2 linked regions of the Homo sapiens genome follow. The protein of the gene in region 1 purifies or fractionates together with the protein of each later gene. This does not show direct contact. Each region holds a gene or a part of one and is shown on either strand. Other genes may lie near its edges.

Region 1 (3,654 bases):
TCATCTGTAAATGTTTTAGTCAGGAAGTTCTAACACCCTAAAACATTATGATTCCATGGAGAATACTGTATTACTCCATCTTGATCATGTACCATATATTAAGCACAGAAAGGTTAGCAGTTGTTTTTGGGTTTTTTTGAGACGCAGTTTCACTCTTGTTGCCCAGGCTGGAGTACAATGGCGCGATCTCAGCTCATTGCAACCTCCGCTTCCCGGGTTCGCGCCATTCTCCTGCCTCAGCCTCCCGAGTAGCTGGGATTACAGGCACCCGCCACCATGCCCAGTTAATTTTTTATATGTTTAGTAGAGACAGGGTTTCACCATGCTGATCAGGCTGGTCTCAAACTCCTGAACTCAGGTGATCCACCCACCTCGGCCCCCCAAAGTATTGGGATTATAGGCGTGAGCCACTGCGCCCGGCTTAGGTTAACAGTTCTTACTGTGTTCAGGACTCTGTCCCTCATTCAGTAATACAATCTAGCACTGCCAATACAATCTCAGAATTGATTTCAAAAAAATTGTATGAATTATCACCTCTGCAGAAAGAGGAAATATTAATAAACATCCTTGAAGAGGAATCACCAATGTGGAAAAGATCAGATTAAGAGTTAAAGGCAAATCCTATCACTTACCAATAAGCCGGGGCTCTGAAGTAAAGTCTCTTGGGGGTACTGGAATTTTCTTTACTATGTACTCACAAACAACTTCAATATTGTATTTCAGCTGAGCTGAAATTGGAATAATGGGAGCTCCCTCTGCTACTGTACCTATATGACAAAATTTAGAAAGATCAAAATTATACAGTTTTATAAAATTTATTCTATGTATCTGTTACATAAAACAATTAAGATTACTATAATAAAATAGATGCCTAAACCCCATATAAATGTCAGCAACAAGTGGAAAGTGGATAATTCTGTTTAGAAAGATGGCAATATTGTTTGTTTTTACTCCTGAAAATGAATACAAATCCCTGTAAGAGAAAATTTGTTACATTATATTAGTAGACATACTTAATATTAGTACAATGATAAACTTATTTAAATAAAGAAAATACTAACATTCCTGTGAAAGAGCACTCTACTAGTTGAAAAAATTTCTAACAACATGTAATTAATCTCCCAATAAATGTCAAGATAAAATTACAGACTCTGCTAATCAAAGACTGCTGGCATATATACTTTTTTTTTTTGGAGATAGGGTCTCGCTTTGTCACCCAGGCTAGACTGCAGTGGCATAATCACGGCTTGTTGCAACCTCCACTTCCCAGGCCCAAGCGATCCTCCCACTTCAGCCTCCTACATAATAGCTGGGAACACAGGTGTGTGCCACCAAGCCCAGCTAATTTTTTGTATTGACAGAGTTTTACCACGTGGCCCAGGTTGGTCTTGAACCCCTGGACTCAAGTGACCCACCCGCCTCAGCCTCCTAAAGTCTTGGTATTACAAGTGTGAGCTACCACGCCCAACCATATATATTTGCTACGTATTGATTATACGTCAAACAAGCTAGTCAAAGAAATAGACCAAACACAATTAGACTTTAATCAAATTCACTTATTACTTCTCGTGATGACAGAACTGAGTTCATAAGAAATTAACCTTTCTAAAAAGAAAAACAAGACTGAGAGAGAAAATGTCAACAATAAATCACATCTCCTCTGAAATGAAAAACATTATGCTATTAGAGAAGGGACACTCTAGAGATTTATTATTTATTTATTTGAGATGGAGTTTCGCTCTTGTTGCCCAGGCTGGAGTGCAATGGCGTGATCTCGGCTCACCGCAACCTCCGCCCCCCAAGTTCAAGCGATTCTCCTGCCTCAGCCTCCCAAGTAGCTGGGATTACAGGCATGTGCCACCACACCCTGCTAATTTTGTATTTTTAGTAGAGATGGGGTTTCTCCGTGTTGGTCAGGCTGGTCTCGAACTTCCGACCTCAGATGATCCACCTGCCTCAGCCTCCCAAAGTGCTGGGATTACAGGTGTGAGCCACCATGCCCGGCCGACACTCTAGAGATTAAATAATCACTGTCACTTCCAAATCTGAAAGCTGTTCAGTAACAAATACTGTAAGACAAGGTTTTTTAAAATTATTTTATTCATTTTACTGTCACTGAGATTTTTTTTAATCTGATTGATAAAGTTTCCAGAAAACAACCTCAGTTCTAACTTGCTGCCAGCAAAAATATACTTTAGTATATTAAATTCAGAATCACAGGTTTCATTAGTTATATCAGGTTACTAACAAGCAAAAGGTAGGGCGATAAGGCTTAAGACTTGTAAGTTTACCTTGTTTTAGATAATATATTAAAAGTTAATTTAACATCTGGTATCCAGAGTAAATGCCTCTCAAAGTGATTCATAGATTTATTTCATATTATGGCTTCTTACCTTGGACAAATGCAAGGATCTGCTCGTATTGTTCTTTAGCCTGACTTTCTTTTACCAAATCAATTTTATTTTGTAGAATCAAAATATGCTTCAGTTTCATGATCTCTATAGCAGCCAGGTGTTCCGATGTCTGAGGCTGAGGGCAAGATTCATTACCAGCTAGTTGATGAAGAATAAAAAAGATGCATATAAGAATAGCTGGAAATATCCAGAATAGGCGGGCAAATCCATAAAGAGACAAAGCAAATTATGGGTTGCAAGGGGCTGGGGGAGGAAAACATGTGGACTGACGCTTCATGGGCATGGGGTTTCCTTTTGCGGTGATACAAAAGTTCTGATACAAAAGTTCTGGAACTAGATAGTGGTGAAATGACAACCACTATGTTGTAGAAAATTGTCAATGTGCTTAATGCCACTAAATTCTACCCTGTAAATACATAAAATGGTACATTTTATGAGTCTCTTTTGCCACCCACTCCCCGCCCCAAAAAAAGTTGGCATCTAATAAAGGAGACTTCTGAATGTTCTAACCCTAATAAGGAAGATATTATTGCCAGGTATCCACCTTTTGGCCCTGCTTCATCCTCTGTTGCCTGCATTCACTGGAACCTCCCAATTGTGTGGCTCCCAATCCTGGTCCTAAGCAAGAAGCTTAAAATCAGCAAGTTTGGCTTTTCTCAGGGTCTGCACTCAGCTTTTGCTCAGGTATGAGGTATAGCCCTCTAACTCTCTCCAGTTTTAGAAATGTTCTGGCCCAGGCAAGCTCCTGAGAAGTAGAGAGTAATTAAAAGGGAAAAGCACTTAATACTGTCTATGAATTTTTACTAATATCAGAGGCTACTCTTCAACTGAGGGAGGGAAGAATGCTATTGTGAAGATAACCAACAGTGTATTATAAAGAAATAGGCATGTTTTGTTGAGCACTCTAATGATCAACCTCCTCAAGTCGTGATATTCAAGTGTCCTGACTATACCAACATGGCATGCTTTAAAAAAAAAATTTTTTTTTTGAGACTGAGTCTCACTCTGTCTCTGTCACCCAGGCTGGAGTGCAGTGGCGTCACCTCGGCTCACTGCAACCTCCGCCTCCCAAGTTCAAGCGATTCTCCTGCCTCAGCCTCCTGAGTAGCTGTGATTACAGGTGTGCCCCACCACACCCGGCTAATTTTCGTATTTTTAATAGAGGCAGGGTTTCACCATGTTGGCCAGACTGGTCTCAAACTCCTGACACCTCAAGTGATCCACCTGCCTTGGCCTCCCA
Region 2 (3,654 bases), on another chromosome or scaffold:
GCAAGGGTATACATCTAGGGCTTTCCATCAGTAGTTGTGGTTGGGAAGGCATGGGAAAATGGTGTGGTCCTCTGCAGTGTAGTTAGGCCTGACTTCCGTTGGTGTCTCTCAATAATGAGTTTTTAGTCTCTTAACTATGTATTAAGTAGAGGTAATACTCGTTTAGAAATGTTGCTTTTATCTGTTGATTATATAGCTGAGGATATAAACATTTGTTATCTGATAATTTCTAACAAGATATGAATATACCAGAGTATAATCTGTCATAGGAGAGGTCAAGCCAAGTCTTAGGTCTTTCAGTTAGAATTTCATACAATAGTACATTTCCCTTTTGAGGTGTGTATCATACTATCTTTAGTGCTAGAAGTAATACTTTAGCCAAGGAAGTTTAAGTTCTTTTGAAGCATTCATTTTAAAAAATAGCTTTAGTTCTTCTGATCTCAGAGCTATACAGATGGTTTGGACCAAGAGGTTTTAGTTTAATGAACATGCTTTGCATATTTGCAAAGGATTTTACCTATAAAGTGAGTCATCATTAGAGTCTTGCAGTGGTACAGGGGAAAGATCCATAAGCTTTTGTTGTTGTTGTTGTTGTTGTTGTTGTTGTTTTTAATAGAGACGGGCTTTTTACCTTGTCACCCAGACTGGTCTCAAACTCCTGGGCTCAAGCAATACGCCCACCTCGGCCTCCCAAAGTGCTGGGATTACAGGCTTGAGCCACCGTGCTTGGCCAGTCCATACACTTTTGTTGAGAGTTATGGCATTGGTCTTCTGGCAAGGGAAGACTTAATTTAACTGGTAAACTTATAGACTATTCCAAAAACATATTCAAACCTTTTAAGCAGTGAAAATGAAATTTATTTATAAATGTTCAAATGGTAGATTATGGTTATTACATATGAGTTTTCAAAAATGTTGAGTCTTTCTGGAAAGATTTATTCTTCAGTATCTGTGCAAAGTTTGAAGTAATTTGTCTTTGCCATTTGGTTTGTATTTTGTTACATAAATACATACTCAAGTCTGGAGATGGTTTCAGGCAACATCCAGTAGCCTAAGACCATTTTAAGGTAGCTGGTGATCTTTTTCTGTTTTGTGGGGACCTTTTTTGTAATGAACATTTTTTTAAAATTCAGAATTTAGATTAATCGGTTGTCAAGAGAGGAGAGAAAGCGATAAAACAGTTTAGGAATAGTAAAAAAGAAAAAAATGTTTTTATATATTTGGGGGAACTGATTCATTGATTAGTTGGTCAGTCTGGAGAAAGCAGCTGGTATCAAAGAAAATAAGTTGTTTGTGGATTCTTTGGAAAACTGTAGATGTTAGCTTTGGAGCAAAATGACAGGTTGGTTTTTTTTTGTTTTGTTTTGTTTTGTTTTTTTGGAGACTGAGTCTTGCTCTGTCACCCCGGCTTAAGTGCAGTGGCATGATTGTGGCTCACTGCAGCCTTCTCTGCCTCCCAAGTTCAAGTGATTCTCGTGCCTCAGCCTCCTAAGTAGCTGGGACTACAGGCGTGCACCACCATGCCTGGCTAATTTTTGTACTTTTAGTAGAGATGGGGTTCCACCATGTTGCCCAGGCTGGTCTTGGATTCCTGACATCAAGTGATCTACCATGCTTAGCTGACAGGTTGTTTCTATTAATATGTCTACAGTGGCCTGGTTAGTACTCTGTCTTGTTAGAGATGGCTATGGTTATGGTTCACTGTGCCCTCTAGGTCATTGTTGTAGAGCATAACTTGGACCCAGGAGCTGCTGGAGGAAAAGAGGAAGTTGATGGGAGGAAGAAGCCTTAGAGGTGGGGAGGGGCTGATCTGTCATCTTCTCCCATGTCTGTCGGCAGGGCACCCACCACAGATGAGGACAAGAAGGCAGCCGAGAAGAAACGGGAGGACAAAGCTAAGAAGAAGCACGACAGGAAATCCAAGCGCCTGGATGAGGAGGAGGAGGAGGACAATGAAGGCGGGGAGTGGGAAAGGGTCCGGGGCGGAGTGCCGTTGGTTAAGGTGAGGGTTTCAGAGGTAAAATGAATTGGGGAACAGTTTGGGAGGACATAAAGGTCCCCTTGTGGGGAAAAGGCAAGGACAGTTTCCCGCTGGCATGTACATGACGGGATATGTACTGATACAGGAGAAGCCAAAAATGTTTGCCAAGGGAACTGAGATCACCCATGCTGTTGTTATCAAGAAACTGAATGAGATCCTACAGGCACGAGGCAAGAAGGGAACTGATCGGTAAGATTCGTGGGCCTGGGCAGTGGGATTGCAGGGTGGCAGAGGGTGGAGGTTGGGGGAAGGGATTGTTGGGAGGGTCTGTGTGTGGCTGTAGTAGAGGGAATTGTATGCTTGGGGCATCCCCGTCCATTATCTGCTGTTTACTCTTCTTGTGACTTAAAACCAATCACTTAACGTTTTGGATCTGTTTTCCCATCTATACAATGAGATAATGTTCTCCTCTTTTTTTTTTTTTTTTTTTTTTTGTTTGAGATGGAGTCTCGTTGTTGCCCAGGCTGGAGTGCACTGGCGCGATCTCGGCTCACTGCAACCTTTTTGCCTTCTGGGTTCAACCGATTCTCCTGCCTCAGCCTCCTGAGTAGCTGGGATTACAGGAACCCGCCACCATCCCTGGCTGATTTTGTACTTTTAGTAGAGATGGGGTTTCACCATGTCTCGAACTCCTGACTTCAAGTGATCCGCCTGCCTCAGCCTCCCAAAGTGCTGGGATTACAGGCATGAGCTACCACACCTGGCTTTTTTTTTTTTTAAGATTAAAAAAGTAAAAGAGTGTTTACCTTCTTTAGTTATTAGGTAACAGAGGATGGTGGTAGGTGTGAAGCATTTCACAGCATTCCAGGATGGTTGGGATTATTGTTGCTTCTGTTTGGAATTTATAAAGGAGAAGCAGGGATATGGGTGATGAGGAGGGCGCGTTATCCGAAGCGGGCATGCTGGGAGAGACTTTGTGATTTGTCTCCAAAGCCTCACCCAGCTCTCTGGCCCTCTAGTGCTGCCCAGATTGAGCTGCTGCAACTGCTGGTTCAGATTGCAGCGGAAAACAACCTGGGAGAGGGCGTCATTGTCAAGATCAAGTTCAATATCATCGCCTCTCTCTATGACTACAACCCCAACCTGGCAACCTACATGAAGGTGAGAGCAGTGAAGAGGCTCATCTCAGGGCATCGCTGGTGGGTTGGGGGAAGAAGGTACCTAGCATCTTAAGACTCAGGGGCTATGGAGGCAGTCTTGGTGGTGGAAGGCCCCATGATTCCTGCTGAAGGGGGAGGCATCCGCTTACTCTACCTTCACACCTCTGACTCTGATGTGGCCTGAAATCTTGGCAGCCAGAGATGTGGGGGAAGTGCCTGGACTGCATCAATGAGCTGATGGATATCCTGTTTGCAAATCCCAACATTTTTGTTGGAGAGAATATTCTGGAAGAGAGTGAGAACCTGCACAACGCTGACCAGGTAAAGGGAGGAGTTGGCAGGATAACTGGAGGTGTGTATTTTATGCTTTGGGAAGGCTCAGTGGGACCCGAGGGTTGAGGTTTGAGACTGAGATCTGGGCTAATTTGTTGACTCCTCCTTCGCCTTCCTTTTCAGCCACTGCGTGTCCGTGGCTGCATCCTAACTCTGGTGGAACGAATGGATGAAGAATTT

The links.
Region 2: the proteins of EIF2S3 (region 1) and EIF3CL purify together in Homo sapiens (affinity purification with mass spectrometry; one large-scale study listed by BioGRID and IntAct). This does not show direct contact.

What each region holds. Positions count from the first base shown.
Region 1 is NC_000023.11:24,061,314-24,064,967, reverse strand, and holds part of EIF2S3 (eukaryotic translation initiation factor 2 subunit 3), read right to left. Parts: intron 2,553-3,654; coding exon 2,394-2,552; intron 768-2,393; coding exon 633-767; intron 1-632. UniProt on the Homo sapiens protein: Member of the eIF2 complex that functions in the early steps of protein synthesis by forming a ternary complex with GTP and initiator tRNA.
Region 2 is NC_000016.10:28,390,328-28,393,981, reverse strand, and holds part of EIF3CL (eukaryotic translation initiation factor 3 subunit C-like protein), read left to right. Parts: intron 1-1,839; coding exon 1,840-2,002; intron 2,003-2,126; coding exon 2,127-2,230; intron 2,231-2,930; exon of another isoform or gene 2,931-3,000; coding exon 3,001-3,142; intron 3,143-3,336; coding exon 3,337-3,462; intron 3,463-3,597; coding exon 3,598-3,654. UniProt on the Homo sapiens protein: Component of the eukaryotic translation initiation factor 3 (eIF-3) complex, which is required for several steps in the initiation of protein synthesis.